Linked DNA regions of Homo sapiens. The protein of the gene in region 1 purifies or fractionates together with the protein of each later gene. This does not show direct contact. Each region holds a gene or a part of one and is shown in the gene's direction. Other genes may lie near its edges.

The links.
Region 2: the proteins of IRAK3 (region 1) and NQO2 purify together in Homo sapiens (affinity purification with mass spectrometry, with the first as the bait; one large-scale study listed by BioGRID). This does not show direct contact.
Region 3: the proteins of IRAK3 (region 1) and IRAK4 purify together in Homo sapiens (affinity purification with mass spectrometry, with the first as the bait; one large-scale study listed by BioGRID). This does not show direct contact.
Region 4: the proteins of IRAK3 (region 1) and RNF152 purify together in Homo sapiens (affinity purification with western blotting, with the first as the bait; one study listed by BioGRID). This does not show direct contact.

The regions. Positions count from the first base shown.
Region 1 is NC_000012.12:66,208,132-66,215,721, forward strand, and holds part of IRAK3 (interleukin-1 receptor-associated kinase 3), read left to right. Parts: intron 1-1,324; coding exon 1,325-1,389; intron 1,390-2,015; coding exon 2,016-2,070; intron 2,071-3,314; coding exon 3,315-3,466; intron 3,467-7,590. UniProt on the Homo sapiens protein: Putative inactive protein kinase which regulates signaling downstream of immune receptors including IL1R and Toll-like receptors.
Region 2 is NC_000006.12:3,007,571-3,015,160, forward strand, and holds part of NQO2 (ribosyldihydronicotinamide dehydrogenase [quinone]), read left to right. Parts: intron 1-2,454; coding exon 2,455-2,619; intron 2,620-4,973; coding exon 4,974-5,104; intron 5,105-7,590. UniProt on the Homo sapiens protein: The enzyme apparently serves as a quinone reductase in connection with conjugation reactions of hydroquinones involved in detoxification pathways as well as in biosynthetic processes such as the vitamin K-dependent gamma-carboxylation of glutamate residues in prothrombin synthesis.
Region 3 is NC_000012.12:43,774,540-43,782,129, forward strand, and holds part of IRAK4 (interleukin-1 receptor-associated kinase 4), read left to right. Parts: intron 1-3,090; coding exon 3,091-3,205; intron 3,206-3,653; coding exon 3,654-3,763; intron 3,764-7,590.
Region 4 is NC_000018.10:61,815,531-61,823,120, reverse strand, and holds part of RNF152 (E3 ubiquitin-protein ligase RNF152), read left to right. Parts: intron 1-6,522; 5' UTR 6,523-6,657; coding exon 6,658-7,269; 3' UTR 7,270-7,590. UniProt on the Homo sapiens protein: E3 ubiquitin-protein ligase that acts as a negative regulator of mTORC1 signaling by mediating ubiquitination of RagA/RRAGA and RHEB.

The DNA.
Region 1 (7,590 bases):
TAATCTAGAAAGAAGAAAGCTAGACTAGAAAATGAAAGTTTTCTAGTCTGAGACAAAATGTTAGAAATGACAGCAAAATATGGCAGGGTTTTACTCTTTTGTAGGAAGCTACATAAATTACCTCAGTCCAGACAGCACTCTACCACATAGAAGTTATAGTCGACATTTGGGGTGGTAAGTATTTGTCATTGATACACACACACACACACACAAACACACACACACGCACACACACCACCTCCAATACTTTATGGCACAAGATGATATAAAAAAATAAACTAACCCAGGAAGATATAATATCATAATTGTAACATTTAAAAATATATGTGCAAAAATGCTGATAATACAGCTGGGCGCTGTGGCTCATGCCTGTAATCCTAGCACTTTGGGAGGCTGAGGCAGACAGATCACTTGAGCTCAGGAGTTTGAGACCAACCTGGCCAACATGGTGAAACCCTGTCTCTACTAAAAATACAAAAATTAGCTGTGCATGGTGGCAGGGGTTTGTAATCCCAGCTACTCAGGAGGTTGAGGCAGGAGAATCACTTGAACCCAGGAGGCGGAGGTTGCAGTGAGCCAAGATTGCACCACTGCACTCCAGCCTGGGTGACAGAGCGAGACTCTGTCTCAAAAAAAAAAGAAAAAAGGCCCAGTGTGGTGGGTGGCTCATGCCTGTAATCCCAGCACTTTGGGAGGCCGAGGCAGGCAGATCTCTTGAGGCCAGGAGTTCGAGACTAGCCTGGCCAACATGGTAAAACCCCATCTCTACTAAAAATACAAAAAAAATTAGCCAGGCATGCTGATAGGTGCCTGTAATCCTGGCTACTTGGGAGGCTGAGGCAGGAGAATCACTTGACATTCTCAAGTGGAGGCAGAGATTGCAATGAGCCGAGATCATGCCACTGTACTACAGCCTGGGCGAGAGTGAGAGTCCATCTCAAAAAAAAAAAAAAAAAGGCTGATAATTTTTTTTAAATTTTCTTCTTTGTGCTTTAATATTTTTAATGTCTAACAACAATTTGTCTTATTACTTGTTTATTATTTAATTATTTAAATTATTTAAAGTTAATAATAGATTAAGGCAACTACTTATGTTTTAAGTGAACAAAAGTATGTTTGTATAACATTTGTTAATTAGAAAGCTATTTCACAAATATAATACTTCACAAATAATACTTTCACAAATTTATCGTAATGTTGCATGGGAATGAAACTTTAGAAATGAACAATGGCTAGCAAGACATTTATTTTCAGAGTCTCAGAAAGGAAAAACATTAGGGACATAAAATTTTTTTGTATCTACCTTCCCATATTTCTCTTTCAGGAGCAGTGTTGAGTCCTTCAGAGAAGAGTTATCAGGAAGGTGGATTTCCAAATATATTATTCAAGGTAGAGTATGTGTGCATAGAAAATGAGCCTTGAACTTTGTTGCATGTATAATTGAGCATAAGGAATGAAATTAGCAGGCAGAAAAATGCTGGATTTGCCGGCACTTTTTAAAAATCAGAAATGCCTTTGTTCTCTCATTATTCTCTATTTAGTTGAGGATTTAGGAAATTAGAGATTTATAAATATTTGAGAAATTAAGAGCTTTCTGTTCTCAGTGATCTGTCAGAGATGAGACTGAGAACTACTAAGGATGCTGTGATTTATACATTTGTCTTAACTCAGCTTTTAATTTTCCTTTTTTGGTTGGTGTTTTGCATGTCACTGTTAGTTTTTATTAGAGCAAACTAGCAGTGATCATTTTTATAGCATTAAAAGTAATTTAAAATTGACTTTGACTGACTATGACATTGAAACTTGAGTTTTTACTGTTGGTGTGAAAGCCTTAAATATGGCAATGAATGCTATTAAATAAAGTGAAATAACTTTGATTTCTGCTAGCTTTCTTTTAAATTAGGTTGCACTCTGTTGCACTGCATAGTCCCCAGGGAGCTTTGGATTTGTGTTGAGGCTCTGTTCTTTCTAGATGTATGAAATGGAATTACTTTAGTATATATTTCTTCTCTTAGGAAACAGCCAATGTCACCGTGGATAATGTTCTTATTCCTGAACATAATGAAAAAGGTATGAAAAAACCAGTTTTTTTCCAACAATTTTTTTAAAATCATACTTTCATTTAAGTGAATTAAGAGGGAGAAATACCCAATAAACACAATAATCATTTATATTCAAATTCGGTATAAAATTTCATAGATATTAAAATAACTTCAATTTGATTGACACTTATAGTTCTAATAGATGATATGTTATTATGTTAAGGCTCCATTGGCTAATGAAGAATGCAATTGTGGTCTCTTCACACGGGGGATATTTTAGTTTTTTGTTGGTAAAATTTGCTATGTTTGTGTGTCATGGGAAAACATTTTTAAAATTATGTTGAGATTTATATAGTTTTAGAAATGCTCACAGCAATTACAGAAATCTTTCAAGATGATTGTAGAGCAATGCTGAAGGTCAGTATGAAAATCTAGTTATCTTCCATATCAACTTTCCTACTTTATTAGTAGGAAGAATAATTTAGTTCCACCTGGAATCATTCTGATAAATGTTAAAGACTATTTAAGGCTGCGTTGCCTAGTCTTTGCCACTAGATCTGATGCTTCTTTCATTGAAAAAAGAATTAGGAAAGTTAGATAAGGCTTTGGTTCTTCAACAATAAGGTCTAAATCAAACATTAAGTGTCTTCAGAGAGGATTTTGTATTAGCTATGGAAATATAGCCAAAGTTGGGTTCTGAAGGACATAGCCAAACTTTTCCTTTTCAATTTGTATTTGATTCCTGTTTGCATGTTTTCTCCCAATCTCCACTTTGGGTGAGTTTTTAAAAGGCTGAATCATCTTTCTAATTCACTCTGAGGAAGTAAATTAGGCAGTTAGAGGATTTGGCACATGAGAAGTGTTTCTATCAGTCATGCTTGGAGAATATTGCTTAGTCATGTCCATATTTCCACTTCCATAATTTTTTAGTAGTTTTAGGTTCATAGTGGGTCAACAGCAACACATTGACCTAATGACCAGAAAATTGAATCTTGGAAGAATTTCTTCCACTAAGCTCTTTGGCTGATCTCTTTTGAGAGGAGGTAAAAATCACAATGCTGCTGTCCGAAGAAACCCTTTGCTCTGTGGAATGGTGGGAACTAGATCCAAGTAAATGTGCAGAGAGCACATGGTGGTCTTCGGCTTTGGTTCCTGGGCCTTTCTCTACTAACCTTCCACTGGACTCTGATTTGTTTCTAATATAGAAATTTTGGTTATAATGGTGATGTTCCTTCTTAGCTAACTTATCTTCCCCCTACTTTCCTTCCTAAGGAATACTGCTTAAATCTTCCATCAGCTTTCAAAATATCATAGAAGGAACTAGAAATTTCCACAAAGACTTCCTAATTGGAGAAGGAGAGATTTTTGAGGTATACAGAGTGGAGATTCAAAACCTAACATATGCTGTCAAATTATTTAAACAGGTATGGAAAGAATTACTGTCACAGGACATCAGTTCCACTTATTTGTTCATCTTTCATATTAAAATATGTCATTTTTCATCAACATTGAAAGGGGTATTTGAAAATAAAATTTTATAAGTGGAAATAAGAGATATGATTTCAGATGACTGGAGAAGTAAAGACCTGTCTTGCAAGAATGAGGAAGTTAAATGCTTTCCATCCCCAGATGTTATAGCATGAAAGACTTTTCTGGGCTGGGTGTGGTGGTTCACGCCTGTAATCCCAGCACTTTGGGAGCCCAAGGTGGGTGGATCACTTGAGGTCAGGAGTTTGAGACCAGCCTGATCAACAGGGTGAAACCCTGTCTCTACTAAAAACACAAGACTTAGCTGGGCGTGGTGGTATGCTCCTGTAGTCCCAGCTACTTGGGAGGCTGAGGCAGGAGAATCGCTTGAGCACAGGAAGAAGAGGCTGCAGTGAGCCAAGATTGCACCACTGCACTCCAGCCTGGGTGATAAAGTGAGACACCACCTCAAAAAAAAAAAAAAAGACTTCTGAAAAGTCTCCAGGACTTTGTTAAAGAGGGTCAGGTAGTGCTAGCCTGCCCTGATTTTCTTGGATTTTTAGGATGAGCCGGGTCCTCTCCAGGCAGCCTCACAGGCTAAGCCACAGTTTGGCATTTGGTACTGCTTTATAAATTGTCTTCTATCACAACTCAGAAGGGTGGAAGGAGGAGGCTTTCGAGTAGGAACAACAAACCAACAAACAGAGTAGGAGGTCAGAAGACAGTTGATTGACTGCAGCCAATGAAGCAAAAAGGGAATTCCAGGATCAAGCTCAGGAGTCAGTCAGAGATAGGTCCACACACAAACACAGAAGAGCTGCTCTTCGTTTTCTTCATAGTTGGTCAACAATAAGTAAACATTTACTAAACTCTTATATGGACTGGGTGCTGAGCATGTAGAGATGAATAAGGCATAGTTCTGTCCTCAAGGAGCTCACAGTCTCTCTGGTGAAATAGCCAGGAAAACAAAAGATTAAACTGTTGTAAAAGAGGTACTTTAGCGAGAATTGTACAAAAGATCACAGAAGCACATAAAAGATAGCAACTCTCACAGCCATAAAAAAGAATGAGTTCATGTCCTTTGTAGGGACATGAATGAAGCTGGAAACCATCATCCTTAGCGAACGAACACAGGAACAGGAAACCAAACACTGCATGTTCTCACTTGTAAGTGGGAGTTGAACAATAAGAACACATGGACACAGAGGGGAGGGGAACATCACACACCCAGGGCCTGTTGGGGGGTTGGGGGAAATGGGAGGAAGAGTATTAGGACAAATACCTAATGCATGCGGGTCTTAAAACCTAGATGATGGGTTGATAGGTGCAGCAAACCACCGTGGCACATGTATACTTATGTAACAAACCTGCATGTTCAGCACATGTATCCAGAGCTTAAAGTAAAATTAAAAAATAAATAAAAAAGAAAAAAAAAGAAAAAGAGGTTTAATGGACTCAGTTTCACATGGCTGGGGAGGCCTCAGTATCATGGCAGAAGATGAAAGGCACGCCTTACGATGCAGACAAGAGAGAAGTTGTGCAGGGAAACTCCCATTTTTAAAACCATCAGATCTTGTGAGACTTATTCACTGTCACAAGAACAGCACTGGAAAGACCCACCCCCATGATTCAATTAACTCCCACTGGGCCCCTCCCACAACACGTGGGAATTGTGGGAGCTACAATTCAAGATGAATTTGGGTGGGGACACAGCAAAACCATATCAGAAGTCTATCTGAAAAGGTTACATACCATATGATTCCAAGTATATGACACTTTGGAAAAGGAGGAACAATTGAGACAGTAAAATATGGTGTCTGGGTGTTTGGTAAGGGTTAGATGAATAGGCAGAGCACAGATGATTTTTAGGGCAGTGAAACTACTCTGATACTGTAATGGTGGATACATATTATCATATATTTGTCAAAACCCATAGAATATACCACACTAAGAGTGAACTCTAGTGTAAACTACGGTAATAATGATATGTCAACTTAAGATCATTGATTTTAACAAATGTACCTCACTGGTGTGAGATGTTAATAATTGGGAAGCTGTGTGCATGTGTGTGGGAACGCCTTACTTTCCTCTCAATTTTTTGTAAATCTAAATCTGCTCTAAAAAATAAAGTCTACTAATTAAAAAAAAAAAAAAAAAAGATAGCGACTCTCTCCTCCCAGAGGAGGGCTGTGTCTGGCACCCAGAAGAGTATCTGGCCAGAGTAACCACTCAGTAAACAGTTCTCAAAAACAAATGGGGAAACCATCCAGCTGGATTTTGAAGGATGAGTAGAATTTTGGCAGGCAGTAAAGGAGGGGAATTACATTCCTGGTGGAACAAATAGCAGTTGCAGAGACCTGGAGGTGTGTGTATGAAAACGTAGGTCTTCCTCATGAATAGCATTTCATTCAGTGCAGCGGACTGGGTGTAGGGAAGATGGTGAGAAGAGGATGCTGGAAAGATATTAAGTCTGTGGGTGATTTTTAAGTAGGAGACTGAAAGATTTGTGTTGTTAAAATATGACTTAGATTCTAGGTTAGATAGTGGATTGGAAGTTGGCAGAAGAATTGGGGGAAAGATGGCAAGAGCTAGCTGGAGGCAGGCTGGGCATGGTGGCTCATGCCTGTAATCCCAGCACTTTGGGAGGCTGAGGTGGGCGGATCACTTGAGGTCAGGAGTTCGAGACCAGACTGGCCAACATGGTGAAACCCTGTCTCTACCAAGAAATACAAAAAAAAAATTAAAAAAAAAATAGCTGGGTGTGGTGGTGCCTGCCTGTAGTTCCAGCTACTCGAGAGGCTGAGGTGAGAGGATTGCTTGAACCCAGGAGGCAGAGGTTGCAGTGAGCCAAGATCACGCCACTGCATTTCAGTGTGGGCAACAGAGTAAGACCCTATCAAAAACAAAACAAAACAAAACAAAACAAAACCACCAGACTGGAGGCAGAAAGACCTGGTAGAGGGATATTTCAGATGTGCAAACCAAGAAATGGACAGGGTATAAACCCGTGTTCCCAACCCTGACTATATATTAGAATTATCTAGGAGCTTTTTAAAAAAATGAGCCTTTAAAAAAATTGACTTTTAAAAAAATGGGCCTTTAAAAAAATGAACTTTTAAAAAAATGGTAGTCACCAGTATTTTTTAAAAGGTCCCAAGGTGGTTCACATGTGTAGCCACTGTTGAGAGTTAATGCTGTTAGCCTGGGCAAAGTCAGTGAGGATGCAGAGGAGAAAGCATGTCTAAGAGACGAGGTGAAGTGGACCACATCTGATTATCTGTTGGATAGGAGTGGGGAAGAAGGAGGGTTTCAAGGTGATTCCGAGTTTGCAGCTTGCATTACCGTACCGTTTTAAAAATTATTTACCTAATTTCTCCATTTCTCCAAATTGCATTTAGTACTACTTAATTGTACATAGAAATCTCAAAATTACTGAGAAGATGAACAGTCTGCTAAAGAAACAACCAGCTGGCCCAACTATTCAACAAATAGAATGTGGTTGCTCTAGAGGTGGCCAAGCTAAAGCCTGTTTCTTAATGCCAATGTGTCCCTGGCCCCAATTCGTACATTGTCTTATGGTTGAGCCTCAGGACCCCATCCCCAAAGGGTCCGTCCAGTCTACTTTCCTACTCTCTCTGCAGCTGCCACCAAATCACACTCCCTTTTGGGAGTTTTCTTTCCATGAGTCTGAATGGTATTGATTGCTTCTAGAACCCCTTCCCTTTCTTTCTTAAAGAAAGGTGTTATTTCCTGGATTGTCTTTGACCCCTCCAGTGTGGTTTGGGTGACACTCCTATGTGTAGCAATAGCATCAAAGCATTACGTTATTCACCCACCTCTCTCAAAGGACTGGGCAGCTTTTTTTGAAGAGCTCTTATTTGTCTTTGTATCCTAGTGCCTTATTACAGGGCCTTGCCCATAGTAGCTCAGTAAATGTTTGCTGGATAAATTGAATGCAGCATACATACCCTTTTCAAGAATTTAGTTGCTAGTTGTTACGAGTAAAAATACCTGAGATTACCAAGGTGTGTACAAAGTCTTACTGTCTCTACATACATTTTAACTTTCTCTTAAGGTGGTA
Region 2 (7,590 bases), on another chromosome or scaffold:
GTAAATTTAATTAAGCAAATCACCAGGCTGCCTCCCAGACGAAGTCAGTATATAAGCCTGGAGACTCTTTCCAATGAGGAAAATACTGCTTCAGAAGCCCCTGGTGTGAACGATACTGCCAGTGCCAGGAGGGCCTGACTCTTCCTAGAGTCCTCTTTGTTATCAGCATCACCACTGAAAGATGGGCTCCATGTGGCCCTGCCTTCCCATGAGACCAGCGGGTCTGATTCCTCATGTTTTGTTTAAGTGTCAGATTTGATGGACTGGGGGAGATGGAAGCAGAACTGTGCCACACTGAAAGGTGCCTGTAGCTGATATCTGCAAATGTAGGGTTAGCATGGAAGACTAATTCCAGCAGTTCTTTATTTTGGTGTTAGGGAGCTGGTCTAAACCTTCTTACAGAGGATAACCAAATTAGGTTGGGCTTTTAAAAGATTTAGTGGTGGTATTTTTGAGGAGATATAATTTGACCCATTGTATTGTGATGTTGAGCTATGAATAACTGGATTTTTAAAATGCCCATTGCTTTAAAACTGCCACCTATTAGAAAGTTTGGTATTTCTGGGGCCAGGTGCTGTGGCTCATACCAGTAATCCCAGCACTCTGGGAGGCCAAGGTGGGCAGATCACCTGAGGTCGGGAGTTCGAGACCAGCTTGACCAACATGGAGAAACCCGGTCTTAACTAAAAATACAAAAAATTATCCGGGCGTGGTGGCGCATGCCTGTAATCCCAGCTACTCAGGAGGCTGAGGTAGGAGAATTGCTTGAACCCGGGAGGCAGAGGTTGCAGTGAGCTGGGATCGTTGCTCCAGCCTGGGCAACAAGAGCGAAACTCTGTTTCAAAAAAAAAAAAAAAGAAAAAGAAAAAAGGAAAGAAAAGAAAGTTTGGTGTTTCTGGCCAAGTGCGGTGGCTCATGCCTGTAATCCCAGCACTTTGGGAGGCCAAGGCGGGTGGATCACTTGAGGCCAGGAGTTCAAGACCAGCCTGGCCAACATGGCAAAATCCCATCTGTACTAAAAATACAAAAAATTAGCTGGGCGTAGTGGCACACATCTATCGGGGGAAATTCAGCCAGATATTGGGCGAAATTCACCCCCAATATTTCACGTAGGTTCTTTTCTATATTTCCTAAGTGTCGGCCGGTCTGAGAAATAAACGGACAGAGTACAAAAGAGAGAAATTTTAAAGCTGGGTGTCCAGGGGAGACATCACATGTCGGCAGGTTCCGTGATGCCCCCAAGCCGTAAAACCAGCAAGTTTTTATTAGTGATTTTCCAAAGGGGAGGGAGTGTACAAATAGAGTGTGGGTCACAGAGATCACATGCTTCACAAGGTAATAGAATATCACAAAGCAAATGGAGGCAGGGCGAGATCACAGGACCACGGGACGGGGCGAAATTAAAATTGCTAATGAAGTTTTGGGCACCATTGTCATTGAGAACATCTTATCAGGAGCCAGGGTTTGAGAGCAGACAACCGATCTGACCAAAATTTATTAGGCAGGAATTTCCTTGTCTTAATAAGCCTGGGAGCGCTACGGGAGACTGGGGCTTATTTCATCCCTACAGCTGGACCATAAAAGACAGCTGCCGCCCCGAAGCGGCCATTTCAGAGGCCCACCCTCAGGGACGCATTCTCTTTCTCAGGGATGTTCCTTGCTGAGAAAAAGAATTCAGCGATATTTCTCCCATTTGCTTTTGAAAGAAGAGAAATATGTCTCTGTTCCGCCTGGCTCACCGGCAGTGAGAGTTTAAGGTTATCTCTCTTGTTCCCTGAACATTGCTGTTATCCTGTTCTTTTTTCAAGGTGCCCAGATTTCATATTGTTCAAACACACATGCTCTGCAAACAATTTGTGCAGTTAACACAATCATCACAGGGTCCTGAGGCAATATACATCCTCCTCAGCTTATGAAGATGATGGGATTAAGAGATTAAAGTAAAGACAAGCATAGGAAATCACATGGGTATTGATTGGGGAAGTGATAACTGTCCATGAAATCTTCACAATTTACGTTCAGAGATTGCAGTAAAGACAGGCATAAGAAATTACAAAAGTATTAATTTGGGGAACTAATAAATGTCCACGAAATCTTCACAATTTATATTCTTCTGCCATGGCCTCAGCCAGTTGCTCCATTCGGGGTCCCTGACTTCCCACGAAACACACCTGTAGTCCCAGCTAGTCAGGAGACTGAGGCATGAGAATCACTTGAACCTGGGAGGCAGAGGTTGCAGTGAGCTGAGATCATGCCACTGCATTCCAGCCTGGGTGACAGAGTGAGACTGTCTAAAAAGAAGAGAGAGAAAGAGACAGAAAGAAAAGAAAATTTGATATTTCTTAGCTTCAATTACTATGATGCACCTGAACATTCAATTTTCATCTTAGTCTTCATTGAATTTAACAGAGAGAGGTTGTTCTTCAAGAGGAACTGTTTCTTATCCTGATTTAGGTAAGAAAGTACTCATTGTCTATGCACACCAGGAACCCAAGTCTTTCAACGGATCCTTGAAGAATGTGGCTGTAGATGAACTGAGCAGGCAGGGCTGCACCGTCACAGTGTCTGATTTGTATGCCATGAACCTTGAGCCGAGGGCCACAGACAAAGATATCACTGGTGAGTCATGGGATAAATGCTCTATTTATAAAAACCATCTTTATGTTTTTTACTTTAAAAAATGTTGACTTCCAGCTGCAAAATGGCATTATAGAAGCAAGCTAGCTTCACTTTCCAAAAACAAATAGATAGCACTGGGATTATCACCAGCAGTATCCCAGAAGTCAAATATGAAGATGAAATAGTTCCCAAGACCACACATAAGTGAAACAACTCCAAGCAGACGGTAAGAGATTGGACTATCATATCCACGACACCCCTCCCCACAAACTACCCAGCACCAGCTGTGTGGGAAATTTCCTCCCAAGTCACAGGTTCTACACTGGAAAAGAGATCAAGGGGGACAATCAGCTTCTCAATTTTCTGGGGTTCCCAGAAACAGGCAGGAAGGAGACCTGTTCCTGCCTCAACCCACAGGAAGCATCAGGAGTGCCTAAAGGGAGAAATATCCCTGACAACAGCCAGAGACAAAGGAGGGAGATGGGAATATTGTCCCCAGCCCTGGAAACTCTGATCTGTAACTTAGCCAAAGGAGATGCCAAACCAGAGTGGCTGTTCAGCAGCACCACACTGTAGGAGGTACATTCTGCAGGTTTCCTGGGCATGAGCTGCTAGCCAGCCTTCCCACACTACCATGCTATCCCCTTTGGAACCTCTCATATTCAGGACTGGCACACTCTGAACAGTAGGTTACTAGAGCTGAGGCAAACGTGGGCATAAACCACCATCTAGTGCCAAAAAGCAGGTGGTGGCTTAGTAGAGGAAAAAAAAAAAATTTAATAAGAAAGTTGCAAAGACTTTCTAAGCAAATATATGTAATAAAAATGAAAACAAGTCAGACATAGAAGACTGAAATAAATAGATGTCATCCACAAGAAACAACAGTAAACAGGGAACCATGACCTCTCCACACAGACAAAGCAAGGAACCAGTGACTGAACCTAACGAGACGGCACTGTTTGGACTCTCTGACCAAGAATTCAGAATAGCACTTTTAAGGAAATGTGGTAATCCTCAAGATCACACAGAAAAGCAGTTCAGAAATTTATCAGTTAAATTTTACAAAGAGATTGAAATAATTTTTAAAAAATCAAACAGAAATCTTGGAACTAGAAATACATTTGCTGAAAAATTCATTAGAGGCTCTCAACAGCAGAATGGATGAAGCAGAAGAAAAAATCAGTGAACTCAAAGGCAGGTGATTTGAAAATACACAGAGGAGAAAAAAGAAAAAGGTATGGAGATTTCTTACAAAATATAGAAAATTACCTCAAAAGACCAAATCTAAGAATGATTGGTGCTTAAGAGGAAGCTGAGCAAGAGCAAGGCATAGCAAGCTTATTCAAAGAAATAATAACAGAAAAATTTTCCAAAACTTCAGAAAGAGATAAATATCCTGGTAGAGGAAGGTCATAGAATAAACAGATTTGACTCAAATAGGACTACCCCAAGGCATATAATTATTAAACTCTCAAAGGTCAAGAACAAAAAGAGGATCCTAAAAGCAAATAACATGTAACAGAGCTCCAGTTCATCTGGCAACAGACTTCTCAACAGAAAACATATAGGCCAGGAGGTAGTGGGACATTTTCAAAGTGCTGAAAGAACAAAACTGTCAACCAAGAATACTGTACCCAGCAAATCTAGCCTTCAACTCTGAAAGAGAGAGAGTCTTTCCCAAACAAAGAAAAGCTGAGAAAATGCACCACCACCAGACCCACCTTACAAGAAATGCTAAAGGGAATTCAATAAGAAAGAAAAACACTAATGTGCAAAAAGAAAACATTTGAAGATGTAAAACCCACTGGTAAAAGTAAGTACACAGAACACTCTAATACTGTAATTGTGTACAGTCCACTCATTACTAGTATTAAGTCTAACAGACAAATCTATCAAAAACAATAATCACTACGTGACCTGTTAAGAGCCAAAGATAAGCAATATAAAATATGTAAATCAAGACACAGATACTCAAAAATGTGGAGGTGAGCATGAAATTAAAGCGTAGAGTTTATTTTTTTAGACCTGTTTGGCATTGAACAAGACATCCAGCCTCTCTTGGGTGTCAGTTTGCTCTCTGGTAAATTGGGAAATACACCAGTCTCACCAGTTGTTATGAAGAAAGGTGATGTGTGTAGAGCACAGCACCTGCTAGGTAGCAAGTGCTCAATCAGCAGCCCTCCCAGACTGCTTCTCTTTCCCTAGCTCGGACCCAGGGTGCAGCTTCTGGTCAGGTTGCAGCAAATGTCTTTGACTTGTCTGAGGAGTCCGGTATACACAGTGCTACTGGGATGGTTGGGATGGGCTGTGGATGCCCACCTAGGAGTGAGAATGTTTGGCCTCTTCCCCGACAGGTACTCTTTCTAATCCTGAGGTTTTCAATTATGGAGTGGAAACCCACGAAGCCTACAAGCAAAGGTCTCTGGCTAGCGACATCACTGATGAGCAGAAAAAGGTTCGGGAGGCTGACCTAGTGATATTTCAGGTTTGTTTTTCTCTAATTAATATATTGAATCAGATTCATCTTATGTACAAACTCTTTCTGAATATTGAGTTTTGTGCTGCTTCTGGAAGTGGCATCAATGTTTTGAGCACAGTTGCACACTTACTGAGCAAATATTGTAACCTGGTTACAACACCTAGTTACAACATTTCACCTAGTTACACCACTTCACCTAGTTACAACACTTCACCTAGTTACAACACTTCATCTAGTTACAACACTACTTTAAACACTGTACGTAGATGTAACACTACTTTTTTTTTTTTTTTTTTTTTTTTTTTGAGACGGAGTCTCGCTCTGTCGCCCAGGCTGGAGTGCAGTGGCGGGATCTCGGCTCACTGCAAGCTCCGCCTCCCGGGTTCACGCCATTCTCCCGCCTCAGCCTCCCGAGTAGCTGGGACTACAGGCGCCCGCCACCACGCCCGGCTAGTTTTTTGTATTTTTAGTAGAGACCGGGTTTCACCGTGTTAGCCAGGATGGTCTCGATCTCCTGACCTCGTGATCCACCCGCCTCGGCCTCCCAAAGTGCTGGGATTACAGGCGTGAGCCACCGCGCCCGGCCGATGTAACACTACTTTAAACACTTTACCTAATTGGGTAAAGATATCCACGTAGCCAATATCACTCACTCCAAATCCCGACTGCCATGTAAATAGGAATGAAGGATATTTCCATTATTCCAGTGGTCCAAGAATCATCTGAAACCTGCCAGTCTTGTTGCTTCCCTTCTCTTCCCGTTCCTGCCCTGAGACATTCTGGGGCTGCTTGAGAACCACATTTATCTGCACAAATGTTTATCAGGGTAAATCAGGCCAAATGCATCTCCTTAAATATCCTGCCTTAAATATCCTGATCATTAAGAGGAAAATCTCTGGTTTCTACCCTCTCAGTGGTTGCTTCACCCCCAGCCCAGCCACCTTCCTGTATTTGTTCACAAGGAGGTGATGCCACTGCAGAGTGAACTGGCCCAGCAAAATGCCCTCCAGGAGTGCTGACTCATCAGGCCACTTCCCGCCACTGCAAGGAAGATGTGCAGGCATGGCTGTGGCTGTGTAAACCTGGCAGCAGAGTACGCACATGAGCTTTGAGGGAATTGTTGGGTGACAGAAATTCCTGTCCAACTAGAAGGAAAGGGGAATCTATTATAAGGGCTCTGGTCACTTGGGCCTCCTGGATCCCAAGGACAGAGCTGTAGCTGCTCTCGTCCACAGATTCCCATCTGCTCCTTTCTGCCTCTTGGCTCTGTTCTCTCTCACTGCTTGCCAGGGACTGGATCCCCTAGATCCAGAATTTCCAACCAAGGGATCTGATTGGTTCAGATCATTTCTGTTTTCCAACCCTGCTTGAGGATGCGGAGTGGGCAGGAGAACGAGAGCACTGTTCGCATGAGTCCGCCATGTGAGGGCAAGGCAGGGGGTGAGCGGCATGTGACCACTTTCCAGACAAAACCACCTTTCCAGAATGATGAGGTTCCCAAGCCTTCATAAAAGCAACCTGCATGTGCGGGAAGAGGGCTGCCTCATCCCTGCCCAGGCTTGCCTCTGCACACCCCTTCCCGACACCAGCCCTTTCTTTACTCAGTGACCTTGAGCTGCTAATCTGACCAAAGTGCAGGACGTCCTTTGTCCTAATTACAGGTGGGTGGACTCATAGTCCTCAGGCCTAGGTGACCATGTGGTTTACCATCTCCGTCTTAATACCATGCCAGTATGACGGGCCTGTATCCTGGGGTGCGTGGTCCCAGCAGAGCCACGCTGAGCTCTCTGCTCTGCTTCTCCTGTCCCCCTTGGGTCGGCCGGCCACGTGGAGCCCGCTTTCCTCCTCGCACCCACTCCACTCCCATAACCCGGTGGCTGGGTAGGCTAAGACCTGGCCTTTCTATAATGGCCTTTCTTTTGTTTCACTTCATTTCACTCCATTTCCCTACTTTCCCTTTTTTTCTGATAGTTTGTCCAGAGGGTCTGCATTATAAGTTATTCTTTTATTCAACATTAATAAAAATTTCATTCATCACTACTGCACTACTAATATCAGAGCCCACCACTCACTGAGCATTGATTCTGTTTTGGGCACTGTGGTGTGTCTTCGAATCCTCACCAGGATGCTGTGAGCTGTGAACTATTAGTAGCCCTATTTGATGAATCAGGAAAAAGGAGGCACAGGGAGGTCAAGTAACTTGCCAATGTCACACAGCAGCAGGTCGTGGAGCTTGGGTTTCAATGCCAAGTCCTGAGTTTGTTTTATATGGAAAGCACAAGAGACATTGGCTTCCACCTTTGGTAACAGATGATTGCCTATGTTTATTTCCCTTCCCAGGCGGTAACACTGGATGTAATGTTAGGGCATCTATGGGATAGGGAGATCTTAGCGCTGGTCTAAGGAATACAAACATGACTTTAGTTGGTGTCTAAATCCATAGATGCTCAGCACCGAACTCAGTCTGACTTCCAGATGCTAACAACACACCC
Region 3 (7,590 bases), about 22 Mb from region 1:
GCCGCAGTCATTATTTTAAGTCACAACAAAGTTACGTGAAATTTCACTATCATGTCCTTCATTATCATGTTTTCCACTTCCAGAATTCATGAGAGATCAATTGTAGAGATACTTAAAAACAACTATCTATAGAGTAATAGGCCCTTATATATAAAGTAGCATCTATAGAGCAACTAGAGTCATGTTATCTGTAAGGATGCTTAGAAGGCATTGATCCTGTGTGCTGGAAAATTGTTGGACATCATCAGGAAAAGTAGGAGGGACAAAGTAGGAAATGTATTCTAATTATTATAGTGATTAATAGTGATTGATATTTGAGTGTGTGCAACATGCCAGACATTGTGCTATGTACTTTATGTGCATTGTCTGTCTAACCCTTACAACTGTTACAACTGCCCATTTTGTTTGTTAACTGAGATTTAGAAACATTAAATAGCTTGTCCAAGATCACATAGCCAGTAAGTGTTAGAGATGGGATTGAAATCCAGATCTGTTTGATTGCGGAGCCTGAACTTTAGATCTGAATCGTAATGGGATTTACCAAATTATACCCATTAAACCCACTGCTGTAAATCACCAATCATAGTTACCTAACCTCAAGTAAGAAGAATAGACTAGAATTGATTTATGCACGGTAAAAATGATACATGCTGAAAAAAGATCAAACTTTTTTTTTCAGGATTTGTCTTCTTCACTCCTACCCCTACTCTCCAATTCTAAAAGTAACTTGTTCACAGTAGGTCATCTGGAAAATACAGGAAAACATTTTTAAAATATACAAGCCTATATGCATGCAGGACTTAATACGTAGGTGATGGGTTGATAGGTGCAGCAAACCACTATGGTACACGTTTACCTGTATGACAAACCTGCACATTCTGTACATGTATCCCGGAACTTAATAATACAAACCATCTCTCAAATATATCACTCAGAGATAACCACTGCTAATATTTTTATATACTTGCTTCATGATGTGTGTGTAGCATTTTCCCATGTCACTAAAAATAATTTGAAAACATTTTAAATTATTGTACAACAGTCTAGCATATGTGAAAATCATATTTTATTTAACCATAGCTAGGTTTGTTTCTAATTTTCAGTATTAAAAATAAAGCTTCTTTAAAGTTCTTTGCACATAAATCTTTAAATGCAGTTATACTTACTTTATCATCTAGGGTAAAGTCCTAGAAAAAGAATTACTAGGTAGGAATGCATGAACTTTTTAAAGACTTTCTAAATACACATTCAAATGGCTTTTGAGATAAGTTACTACCAGCAATGTATTACAATTTCAAACTTTACTGGTTCCTTACCTTCATTTAATATCATTACTTTTTTTTTTTTTTTTTTTTTTTTTGAGACGGAATCTCGCTCTGTTGCCCAGGCTGGAATGCAGTGGTGCGATCTTGGCTCACTGCAAGCTCCGCCTCCCAGGTTCACGCCATTCTCCCGCCTCAGCCTCCAGAGTAGCTGGGACTACAGGCGACCGTCACCATGCCCGGCTAATTTTGTTTTTGTATTTTTAGTAGAGACGGGGTTTCACCACGTTAGCCAGGATGGTTTAGATCTGACGTCGTGATCTGCCTGCCTCGGCTGGGAATACAGGCGTGAGTCACTGCGCCCGGCCTATTATTACAATTTTTTAATAAGTGCCAGTCTCTGGATCTTACTAGCAGAATGAACTTGGCCAAGTTTTTTAACTTTCTATTCGTTAATTTTCTCATCTATAAAATGGGACAATAGTACTTACTTAAGTTATTGTGAGGATTAAATAAAACAGATAAATCACTTGCCACACTGCCTCGTTTATAGTATAAATTCAGCAAACGTTAACTACTCATGTTTAAAATGTGCCAGTTTGGTGGAAAATGGGACACTTACTGTTTTAATTTGCACTTCTTCAAATATTTATGAGACTAGAAGAAATTGATATAATGAACTGCTAGAATTGTGGATCATTTTGAATGAACAAAATGAATAAGCACTTAAATAATAAAACACTTATCATGTGCCAGATACGTTTCTAGGCTGTCATGTTTACATTTGCTCATTTAATTGTCTCAGCATCCATATTACATACTGTTTTCTGCATTTAGCAGATAAAGGAGCTGAGGCTCAGTAAGGCTGTTAACTTGCGGTAGGTCACATATCCAGGAGGGGGCAGAACTAGACTTTAAATTTAGGATGTATAACTCTGAGCCCTGTTTTCTTTCGTCTTACCACAGATGCTGCCACTTTATTAGATTGTAGGTCTCTTTAGTTTTATTACTCTCAAGTATATAAAGACACTCAAATTAGGTTATAAATAATCCAGTGTGATTAAAGATCAAAAACATGTAAATTAGATGTGATTCAAGATCATGTCTGTAAATCAGTGCTTTGAGTGTGTTAGAAAATTCTTGACAGTATTAGCATAAAAATTCAACGGACTTCTTGAAATCTTATTTGTGCCATCATTGAAAATTGGGCTAAAGAAAGTGAGCATCAGCCTAGTCCTTAACCAAACTTATCACAAGTTCCAAAAATCTGAATTATTTAGCTTTTACTGTAAAATAGAAAGAGGTTTGGCCAGCTGTAGTGGCTCACACCTGTAATCCCAATACTTTGGGAGGCCAAAGTGGTAGGAGCACTTGAGGCCAGCAGTTTGAGACCAGTCTGGGAAACACAGTGAGACCTCATCTTTACAAAAAAATTTAAAAAGTAGCTGAGTGTGGTGTACACCAGTAGTCCAAGCTACTTGGGAGGATGAGTTAGGAGGATCACTTGAGTCCAGATGGTCGAGGCCGCAGTGAGCTATGATTACACCACTGCACTCCAGCCTGGGCAACAGAGTTAGACCCTGTCTCAAAAAAAAGAAAAAGAGGTTTTACTTCTAATGTTGATTAATACTGGCTGAAAAGAGAAGTATTTGCAGAAAATTATAAACAGTTACAATAAACATATATAAACATAAACATCAAGTTAGAAATAATATATAACATACTATTTTTTTGCTCTTTTTTTCTATTAAAACTTTGAATAACTTCCAACCTATAGCTGAATATATATTTATTATAATAATTTTGCATGAAAAATTATTTGTCACAGGTGTCAACATGAAAACTTAGTAGAACTACTTGGTTTCTCAAGTGATGGAGATGACCTCTGCTTAGTATATGTTTACATGCCTAATGGTTCATTGCTAGACAGACTCTCTTGCTTGGTAAGCTATTTGTTCATCAGATTGTTTGGCTTTTTGTTTATATGCTGGAATATTAATATTCATTTTGTTACTGGATTATTTAAACCAAATTCACTTTCATATTTTTCCTGCTCTATGAAAATTATACAGTTGATATGTCAACAAATTATACAGTTGATATGTCAACAACTGGGTTGCCATTTTATTAGGTGGTAATCTTAAATGTAGAATTCAGTTAAGACTATACTAGGAAGATGCTTTTATATATTTTTATCTTCAAATAACAAATGTAAACACCCATTTGAGCTTATTTAGATATTATTTTTAATAACTTAAAAATGTAGTCCTAAATTATTAATGCTATAACATCATCTTCAGTTGTTGCCTAGAAAAATATTCTGTGTTATATATTCTCTGTAGATTTTTTATTATTCTTTCTCATTTTTAATTTGGTTTATTTCTTTATAAGGATGGTACTCCACCACTTTCTTGGCACATGAGATGCAAGATTGCTCAGGGTGCAGCTAATGGCATCAATTTTCTACATGAAAATCATCATATTCATAGAGATATTAAAAGGTAAATGCTACTGTTTAAAAGTTTTTGGAAAGCTGTCTTTAAAGAATAATTTGCTGTCACTCTATTCACGATTCATATGCAGGTCTTAACCTAGAGCATCTGGACTTTTTTCCCATCACTCCATGAAAGCTCTTCTCAATAAGGACATCTATAATCTCCTTTATTCCAAGCCCAGTGACCTACTTCCAGTACTCATCCTACTTGACCTTTTTTGTTTGTTTTAATAGTAGTTTATTCTGTTCTTCTTGACACTTTTGCCTTATGGAAATTAGTTGTTTTCTTAGTTTATGGATCACTATTCTTTTCTGAATCACCTTCATCCTCCATGAGTACTTTTCAGTTCTCTTTCTTTCTTGTGTATTTATCTAGTTAAATATTTACCTACTATAAGTAACATATTCATATATAGAGCTCAACATCAATCAAATAAGCACAAAATAATTATAGAATGTTAATATGTACAGTTCACATATATATTATATGTATTATTATTATATAGTATAGTACATAGGATTAATATAAAGAAGGGTTTCCAAGAAAGTGACATTTAAGCAGAGATTCAAAGAATGGGCAGGAAATAAGTAGACACAATTTGAGGGTAACTGTAGAATGGATGATGGGGAGAAGAACATTCTAGGCAGAAGGAACTGCATTTGTAAGACCAGTGGTGAGACAGAATATGGGAGCATGATGAGTTACAAGAAATGAAATATGCTTTGGGAGCCAAGATAGGAGGATCATTTGAGGCCAGGAGTAGCAGACCTGACTATGTTCCCTGAACAACATAGCAAGACCTCATCTCTACAAAAAAACTAGTCAAACGTGGTATTGCATGCCTACAGTTCCAGACACTAGGGCAGCTGAGGAGGGAGGAGGCTTGAGCCCAGGAGTTCAAGGTTGAAGTGAGCTATGATCGTGCCAGTGCTCCCCAGCCTGGGTAATAAAGTAAGACTCTGTCTAAAAAAAAATGAAGTAAATGCAGTATGACTGAGATGCAGAAAGTTATAGGGTGGTGGATTGGAGATAAAACTACAGAGAAGTGTAGGAAGCTAAGTCCTATAGGACTTAATAGATCAAGGTAAGGCTTTTAGTTTTATCACAAGTGTAATGAGATGCCGTTGAAAATTTTAAGTAGGAATATGGCATCATATTTAAGTTTTGCAAAGATGATTTTAACTCTAGTGTAGAGAACAGTTTGTAAGAAGAGGCAGTTAGTAGGCTATCATAGGTGGCAGTTCATAAGAAGAGAGGGGAGCAGATTAGAAAGATTAAAATGGCAAAACTTGTTGATACCTTGGCTATGCAGGGGTTCAGGAAGAGCGAAGTATCAGGAATGACTCCTGGAATAATGGCATCCAGACTTGCATTCTGGAATGATTATGGCATGATTCACTTATGTAGAAAGGACTGAAAAAAGACTTGGTTAGGTTGGGGTTAGAGAGATGGTTAGAAAATGTGAATTCTCTTTTGTACATGTTGTGTTTGGGGTGCTTTTAAGATGTAGTAGTAGAGATGGTAGACAGTGTGATATACAGATTTGGAGCTGGAGGTCTGAGCTGAAGATATAAATGTGTATTACTTGCATACAGGTGATAATTGAAGTGACTGTATTCACTTGAGGGGAGATGTAGATTAAGAAAAGGTCACAAGATTAAGTCTTGGGGAACCCTAAGACTTAATGGCCAAATAGAAGAGATGATCACAAAAAGGAATCTAAGGAAGTACACATACAGAGAAGGGTAAGATGAAAACCTGGAGAGTGTGGAGTCCCTGAAAACGAGGAAAGAAAGTGTTTCCCAAGAGGGAGTAGTCAAAAAGAGTCAAGGGCTTTAATCATTGGATTAGCATCACCATGGTCTTTGGTGACTTTATGGAAACCCATTTCCAGGTAGTAGTTGGTTTAGAAATCACATTGTAGTTGAGAGAGTGAGAGCTAGAGAACTGAGATAGGAGTATAGACAAGTCTTTTAAGACATTTTACTAGTGAAGGGGACAGCTAGAAATAGATAAGTCATTCAGGAAACTTTTTTTAAGCTGGCAGAGATTAAGCTGTGCTTATGTGCCTATAGGAAGGATCCAGATTAAAAGGGAGAGGATAGTATGGAAGAGAGAAATGAGATGATGTGTTCAGTAGGGTTACTGAGAATGTAGAAAGCAGCTCAAGCAGAGGAACTGACCCTAGATGAGAAAAGAAACGCCATCTCCTATCCTTCATGGATTGGTACTTTCTTGTGTTCTTATATCATTGTCTCTTTTCTCCCTGTATGTTCTTTTTTTTTTTTTTTTTGAGACAAGTTTCACTCTTGTTGCCCAGGCTGGAGTGCGATGGCGCGGTCTTGGCTCACTGCAACCGTCGCCTCCCGGGTTCAAGAGATTCTCGAGCCTCAGCCTCCTGAGTAGCTTGGATTACAGGCATCCACCACCACGCTCTGCTAATTTTGTATTTTTAGTAGAGATGGGGTTTCTCCATGTTGATCAGGTTGGTCTTGAACTCCCGACCTCAGGTGATCCGCCCGCCTTGGCCTCCCAAAGTGCTGGGATTACAGGCATTAGCCACCCGCCTGGCCTCTCTCTGTATGTTTTTGCTGAGTGATATTATGTTAATTTTAACTGCTACTTATATGTGAGTGTCTTTTGAATCTGTATTATTAGCTTCCAATCCTGGATTTTTAGTATCCCCGTACCAAAAACACTTCATCTGGGTATCCCACAGTAGCCTTTAAGTCAGAACATTAGAAATCAAACTCATCAGCTCTTCCCAACCTAAAGTCTTCCCACATTTCCTTTCTGATCCAGTGAAGTCACTGTTCATTCTGTCTCTCAAACTGAACACGTTCTCATTCTCTATATCATGCTAATTACAAAATTCTGTTGTGTGAGCCTCAAAATTTTCACTTTCCATTTATCCCATGTTATGACCATTTAAACCCTCATTATCTCCCATTTGCTTTGTTACAAACCTTCGTAGTCAACCTAAATCCAGCCTATCAGTTCTCATCTATTCACTACCACACTACTAGGTCATGGTCCTAAAAGTTAAGTCTAATAACATCAGTTTCCTACTGTGAAAACTTTAGCTGGTATCCTGTTGCTCACAGGATAAAATGCAAATTATCTCCATGTTTCTTGGACACTCGTTCCTTGAAGTTGACCATGTATACCATATCATGTTTTTGTCACTTTGTACCTGTTACTCCATTTGCCTGGAGTGCCTTTCTTTCCCTCATATAACTATTAACTTCTAATAATCCTTCAATACTAAGCACACTTTTCACCCTCTGTTTGAAATTTTTCCTACTTTTTCCAGGCACATGGTTGTTCTCTCAGCATTTTGTACCTAATATTACCATTGTTTTAAAAAATTATTTATGCCTTTGTCACAGACAAGATTTTAAGACTCCGCCATGCCCAGCAGTGAGCTTAAATACTACACAACATAGGGAGTTCTCAATAAGATTGTGTTGAATTAAAGTATGAAAGCACATAATGAATTAATTGAGATATTTTGGCCATATTTTTTTCTCTTCAAAAGCCAGATAGTACAGAACAAAAGAATAAAGAAATTCATAATTGAGATACTTTGGTTGGAAATTTGTTTTGAAATGAATTGATACATACTAAGAAAGGAATTAATAAAGGTGCCTTGGAAGACTTTGTAGTAATTTACCCTATAATAAATGATTTGTGGAATAATGAAAATATCTCTTACTAATGTAGACAGTTTTATTTCATTTTTATTCTCCTAAATGTTTTCCTCAAGAAACATAAAAAAAGAGGACAGTTGCTTCTCTTTAGCTATAATCTGAATTCTAGGTTTATTTCTATAA
Region 4 (7,590 bases), on another chromosome or scaffold:
TGTATGCAGCAGTTGTGTCCTGGAAGGATTGCTCTTTGCTACCAGAGGACAAAAAGTCAATGACACATCTGTCACCGGGCATTCCCATTCTTGCCACTAATTGGAGTGTTTGCTAAGATCCAATATAACTAAGTGGCTGGCAAGCCAGCTGAAATACCAGATGAAATGGAATTGTGATTATTTTGTTTAATCCCATTTCAAATATTTATATTTTGTTGAAGATTTAAGTAGATGGCCTGTATCAGAAAGATGTGCTATTTCAATAGGAAAAGAAAAGCAATGTAGTGCCTAGTTTAATCTCTGCATTTGAGTTTTTTTCTCAACACAACCATTGAATTTAAGGTCCTCATAGAGACTATTAAATGGAACACTTCAAGGTCAGCCCGATGTAATCAATATCAGCTCAGGCCACAACTCCACAGAGAGACTTCATAATTAACCCCACTGTCACAGAATGTATGAAGATTCTTAAGAGTGTAAGCAGAGTAAAACTATCTGGATTATCTACTTCACTGGCTTTTTTTATCCTTGGGCTCATATGCCTAGACTTCTAAAAGCAACTGGGATTATAAAAATTCAATGTTGGAGATCTTTGCTATTTTACCACCTACCAAATGAATGCGCGCACTTTGTCACACCTGTACCTTTTCAAAAGATGCATAAAATTATGTATAGTTTTTAAAAAGAAATTTTATTTTGTGAAAGTAAATTGTTATTGTAAAGGACTTTCAAAAGCACAAAATATCTAGGGCCTCAAAATAACAACAGCAACAACAACACAAAGACCCCTTTTGTTTATCTATATATTGTTCAATTAATATTATTTATGTAACTATGTACTGTTTTATGAGGTTATGTTTGAAATAAGTTCTATCTTGGGAGCCATCTATTTTTTAAGAATGCCCTCCCCGAGCCACTGTTCTTCTCTTTGTGGTCTGTTTTTCACTTTGATCTTGACTTTAAGTTTTTCTCAAATAAATTGTGGTGACATTTAAAAATTGTTCTCATATATTTTCTTATATACTTGTTCTTATGCATTCTACTGAAGTACTCTTTCCCTTTAAATCTTAATGAGTATTTTATTGGAGTATCACATCTTGCTCTTCCTGTAAGGAAAACAAGGCCAAACAGGTCTCTGAAGCAGCAGTCCCCAACATTTTTGGCACCAGGGATGGGTTTTGTGGAAGACAATTTTTCCACAGGACGGATGGGTAGGGACCGATGGTTTCAGGATGAAACTGTTCCACCTCAGATCATCAGGCATTAGTTAGATCCTCATAAAGAGTGTGCAGTCTAGATCCCTTGCATGTGAAGTTCACAGTAGGGTTTGTGCTCCTATGAGAATCTAATGCCATCGCTGATCTGACGGGAGGTGGAGCTCAGGCGGTAATTGTCTGTCACCAGCTGCTGACCTTCTGCTATGTAGCCTGGTTCCTTACAGGTTGTAGACTGGTACTGGTTGGTGGCCTGGGGGTTGGAGACCCTTGCTCTAAAGTAATCACTGATATGTGTTTATTATAACACGCTTGACAGGGAACTCTGAATTTCTTTTCTGGTCTACATGGACTTTGTTTCCATTCTTTCTTCTATAGTTGATGCACATCTTTAGACTTCATGATGAAAGGGGGAAAGAATGATCCATCATTAGCTTCACTCCATAGCCTCATAAATTTCCTTCTCTTTACCTAACGAATCATCATCATTACTAATTACGCTCCAGAAAATAAACTGGAATGCAGTACAGGCTGGCTTCATGTAGAACAAATCAGTGCATAAATCAGAGAGGCTGCTGTCAAAATGGCTTGTAAGGCCTAGAACTTACTTGGATAGAGTTGGAAATGGAATAGGATAATCTAATTTTAAGGGAGCTTAACACAAATTAAGGGAACATTACTTGGAACATAAATTCATGAATAAAATTGCATATTGGTTTTGTTGACCAATGATGGTACGCAGGTCTTGGGGCAGGGCCAGGAAGAACACTTGCATGCCTCCTCCCAAGCTGTTCCAAGTGGCAGCTCTTTGATAGCCAGGAAGTGCCTCTGGGCAGATATGTGCCTCAGTGCAGAGCACTAGACTGAGTGGAGAGGAAGTGGAGAACAAGCACTGTCCTCTCTGAACCTTTCACTGTGTGGAAGTATGTGGATCCCATGAGCTCACTTGACCTTCAGCCACAACTCCATCATCCCTGCTTGGCCAGGGAGAAAGCAGGCTCAGAGAAGGTAAATGACTTTGGCCTGGTATCACAGCTGGTTAGTGACAGAGCTAGGCTTTGAGCCCAAGGTTCTTTGAGTCCCAAACCTCCAGTCTTCCCACTCTGCTGAGCTACTTCCCACATTGTGATGTAGAAGTTAAGGTAAATAGTATGGAAAGAAAGAAGGTTTATACATAAATCGGTGGTCACTGTTTTGATATGATGTCATGAAACATTTTTGTCCCCAGCCTCATTTGCAATTGAGGGTTTTCCTGTTAAGGAAAAGTCTCTCCAAATTCATAAAATTGCAGGAGTCTGTAAAATTTTGTACCCTGCCTCAATTTTATTGTTCCTACCCACCCGTAGCTCAACGTGAGCAATCCTTCCCCGCAGGCACAGCTACATCTCAGTAGAGTCAATCATAGTCTCACCTGATTGCTGTCTGTGCACTTTCACCTGGAGACAGATAGAGCAGGATTCACCAACGAACCCTGTATTTTGTTTTGTTTTAAGAAAAAAAAATGTATTACCTTGGATATAAAATTATAGAAGAATTTTATCCTACTCTTTTTTTTTTTTTTTTTTTTTTTTTTTTGGTGAGACGGAGTCTCTCTCTGTCACCCAGGCTGGAGTGCAGTGGTGCGATCTCTGCTCATTGCAAGCTCCGCCCCCTGGGTTCACACCATTCTCCTGCCTCAGCCTCCCGAGTAGCTGGGACTACAGGCGTCCGCCACCATGCCTGGCTAATTTTTTGTATTTTTAGTAGAGACGGGGTTTCACCATATTAGCCAGGATGGTCTCGATCTCCTGACCTCGTGATCCGCCTGCCTCAGCCTCCCAAAGTGCTAGGATTACAGGCGTGAGCCACCATGCCCGGCCGGATTCTTTTTTTTTTTTTTTTTTTTTGAGATAGTGTCCCACTCTGTCATTCAGGCTGGAGTGCAGTGGTGCGATGTTGCCTCACTGCAATCTCCGCCTCCCGGGTTTAAGTGATTATCCTGCCTCAGCCTCCTGAGTAGCTGGGATTACAGGTGTCCACCACCACACCCAGCTAATTTTTTTATTTTTAGTAGAGACAGAGTCTCGTTATGTTGACTAGGCTGGTCTCAAACTCCTGGCCTCAAGTGATCCACCTGCCTTGGCCTCCCAAAGTGCTGAGATTACAGGCGTGAGCCACTGTGCCTGACCTTCTCTTTGACTCTTTAATATCTTCCTAAATAACTTAAATACCTTCCCCAGCACCTCCAGTGGAATATGGCCTGAACAGAACTCATTGTATTTCTCTTCATGATCCCTATTTCTCATAATGATATTACCTTCCTCTAAAGGCTTCATTTTTGGCTTCTTTCACTGTACAACCTCATTGCAATACCCTGCAAGATCCTGCTGGAATTCTGTGAACCTCTTCTCACATCTCATCATTCTGTCCTAATCATCACTATTCACTTCAGCTACTCATTTAACTCTTGCCTAATGTAATAGCCTCCCAATAGGTCTTTCCAGTCTACCCTTGAATGAATTGTTCTGCTACTCTTAACCTTTCTGGTGTTTTCCCATTGCTCACTCTAAACTCCTGAATCCTTGGCCTGGCACTGGGGGCTGCCCACGGTCCACAGTCTCTGGCCTGTGCCTGACTAAGCTCATTTCTCCCCTCCCTGTGGGATCTGCTATCCCTGGTTGGGTCTGGGGAGAGTGCTTGCAGGTTCTCTGAGAGTTTTATTTCTTTAAAAGACATCTGTATCAGAGACTGTAAGGGCTAAAACGATCAAACTCTTAGAGAAGACTTCTGTAAGTTGCTCTAGTATTAGAAACAATCCTCTAGCCAGTGTCCCAGGTAGAATAGAAAATAATTCTGTAATCGCTTACCTTCTTTCCTTTGCTCATGCTGATTCCATAACCTGAAAATAGCCTGTCCCCTGATTTTTTGTGTCTAATTCGATAATCCAGATTTTTCACTAAATTCCCCCTGATTCCTTCGGCTCCCTTAGGGTACCTTGTATTTACGTTACAATTGTCTAAGTACTTAGCGCTCCCATCTCTAGGCCAGGACTTTCTTATGGGCAATGACAAGATCTTAGTTACAAGGGACAAAAAGGAACATCACGCTTGACACATAGTAGATATGCAATGAAAATTTGAATGAATAAATGAATGAAAGAAAAAATATATTCGTGTGTTCCTTCTTACCTAGGTTTAAGTTGTTTTCGGGTAGAATCTGGGTCTGATTTATATCCTACAGTATTTAGCTTTGTGCTTTGTGCATAATAGATATTCCATAAATATTTTTTGAATTAGTGGATAGCTATGTAGTTGATCCTGATATGAACTTCCTGAATGCTACATTACTGTATTTCACTTTCAGTAACTTAAGTGTTTCTAATATAGCTAATGTATTTTAAAGTATGTTGATCTTTTCATTGTTACTAGTTTTTAACAGTGGTTATTTTTGTCTTTGAACTGGTTTGCTTTTTCTTGTTTTTTGTTTTTTGTTTTTTTTTTAATTTGAGACAGGGTCTCATTCTGTCATCCAGGCTGGAGTGCAGTGGTGCAAACACGGCTCACTGCAGCCTCAACCTCCCAGGCTCAGGTGGTCCTCCCACCTCAGCCTACTGAGTAGCCGGGACTAGAGGTGCTTGCCACCATGCCTGGCTAGTTTTTGTATTTTTTGTAGAGATAGGGTTTCACCATGTTGCCCAGGCTGGTCTCAAACTCCTGAGCTCAAACGATTCCCCCTCCTCGGCCTCCCAAAGTGCTGGGATTGCAGGTGTGAGCCCCCACGCCGGCCAGGTTGGTTTTTGGTGCATTCTTAATTTTGATTGTTAACACATTATATATCATGATGGGGGAGTGCTTTCTTAATTTCACAAAGGAAATTGGAAAGGAAAAAGAAGGGTCACTTTTAAGACAAATGTGAAGGAGTGTTATAGCTCCCATCTCTAGGTGTTGGTGGGGTTCTAGGACTAGCAATTTTTTCTGCAATAGTGGTTGAGTAATTCTTTCTAGAGTCATCATGGCTCCATCCAGGGACACATAATTTGGATGCTTTCAATGGGAAACTGAGTCAGGCAGCCCTTACTGAAATGCCAGTGGAGCGTTAGAGGACATTCCCAAACTTCAGTGAAGTTGAACTAAGTTTCTCTGCCTCCCCTCCATACCAGGATGCTAACACTTTTTTTTTTTTTTTACAATGAGGAATGCTTGCCAGACTTCCCTGTCAACCTTTAACTATAGAATATTTGATTTCAATTAGTGAATTAATGGTTCAGTCATCTCTCTATCTGAGGGCATTGGTTCCAGGACCCCCATGTATACCAAAACCTGTGAATACTCAAGGCCCACAGTTGGTGCTATAAAACCCAAGAATATGAAAAGATGGCCCTCGGTATACAGGGGCTTTGCATCCTGAGAACGCTGTATTTTTGATGTCATTTGGTCGCAGATGCAGAACCCACTCATAGAAAGGGCTGACCGTATCTATTCAAAAAATTCGTACTTAAGTGGATCCATGTGGTTCAAACCTGTGTTGTTCATGGGTCAATCGTACTTGCTTTTAGTTGTGTTACTTGGTACAAGCCTAAGTAGTAATGAAACAAAAAGAACTGACTGGAAAATGTCAGTGATGCCTTTGTGATGAGTGTGCCTTTGTGATCCACACTGCCTTAAGCTTCACTGCTGCTTTTGGTTTTGTTGCTGTTTGGGGTTTTTTGTTTTGTTCTCTTCAAATGATTTGTTGGGAAAGATGAAAGATGCCTTCGTGTGCTTCTTCTGCAGTGTCACTTTACTTCTCTGTGAAGAGGAACAATCCTAACCCATATATGTAAACTGAGCGAGTTAGTTATAGGAAGTACCTAGGTTTGTGAAGTTGCCTAAATCTTGCAATTAAGACTTACAAGTGGGTAAGTAGAGTCAGGAAAAAAGGTCAGAGGATCTAAGGAGAGAAATTTACTTCTAGGAAATACTATGAACTTATTGGAAGCAGGAAAGTTTCTCTAGTATATTTTAGAAGGATGACCCAGAGCTTGCTTAAATGTACAAAACAGAAACAAAAGACGCCCTCTTTATGAAATACAGATGCATCGTCTACAACTATTGGAGTTGTTCATTTTTTTAGAAATGAACTAAGTATTTGCCATGACATGCTCTCTGAGACAACTTTCATTCGCCTTTCACTGGGCGTTATGGGAATCCTGTAGTCTCAAGACTGGTAAATTTTTAGGCTTTTGGCCCAGTGTCAAGACTTTTGAGCAATGGTATAAATCCATTAGATATGTTGACATCTCAACTTCTTTGAAATAATTAAGATTGTTTGCATTATTTGTCTCTCTCAGAAATGAACACACCTGTGAGTACTGGATGCCTGTGAGCTTGCCATTACCTGCACTGCAAAGACACAGGGCGGTGGCCTCTGAGAAGCAGCTCCTTCCCCTTCACCTTGGCCTTGCCCTTCCTGCTCACGGTCCACCATGGAGACGCTGTCCCAGGACTCTCTGCTGGAATGTCAGATCTGTTTCAATTACTACAGCCCCCGGCGCAGGCCCAAGTTGCTGGACTGCAAGCACACCTGCTGTTCAGTGTGCCTGCAGCAGATGAGGACCAGCCAGAAGGATGTGCGGTGCCCCTGGTGCCGCGGTGTCACCAAGCTGCCTCCCGGCTTCTCCGTGTCGCAGCTCCCGGACGACCCGGAGGTCCTGGCTGTCATCGCCATTCCACACACTTCCGAACACACCCCGGTCTTCATCAAACTTCCCAGCAATGGGTGCTACATGCTGCCCCTGCCCATCTCCAAGGAGCGTGCGCTGCTGCCCGGAGACATGGGCTGCCGCCTGCTGCCCGGGAGCCAGCAGAAGTCCGTCACCGTGGTGACCATCCCTGCTGAACAGCAGCCTCTGCAAGGTGGGGCTCCCCAGGAGGCGGTGGAGGAGGAGCAGGACAGGCGGGGCGTGGTGAAAAGCTCCACCTGGTCGGGGGTGTGCACTGTCATCTTGGTGGCTTGCGTCTTGGTCTTCCTCCTCGGCATCGTGCTTCACAACATGTCTTGCATTTCTAAGCGCTTCACTGTGATATCCTGTGGCTGAAGAGGGCTGCAGGGAAGTCTCTTGTGGGTGCCAACTTAGGGGTTGAGCAGGTTGATGATGAGATCCCAGTGAGAAGATGGGGGGCAACACTGACCATTTGGTGCTGAGCGCTGGCCTCTGGGTTGCCTCTTGATTACCCCAAGACAGACACAAAGGGCAGAAGGTGCGGTCTCAACAAGATACCAGGTGAATTGTTCTGAGTGTTGATGGCAACAGCTTGGAAGATGATTGCATGCATCCTCATAATCATGTATTCAATGGACTGTAATTTATGATTTTTCAAAATCATGTTACAAGATAGACATATTCTACTTAGACGTT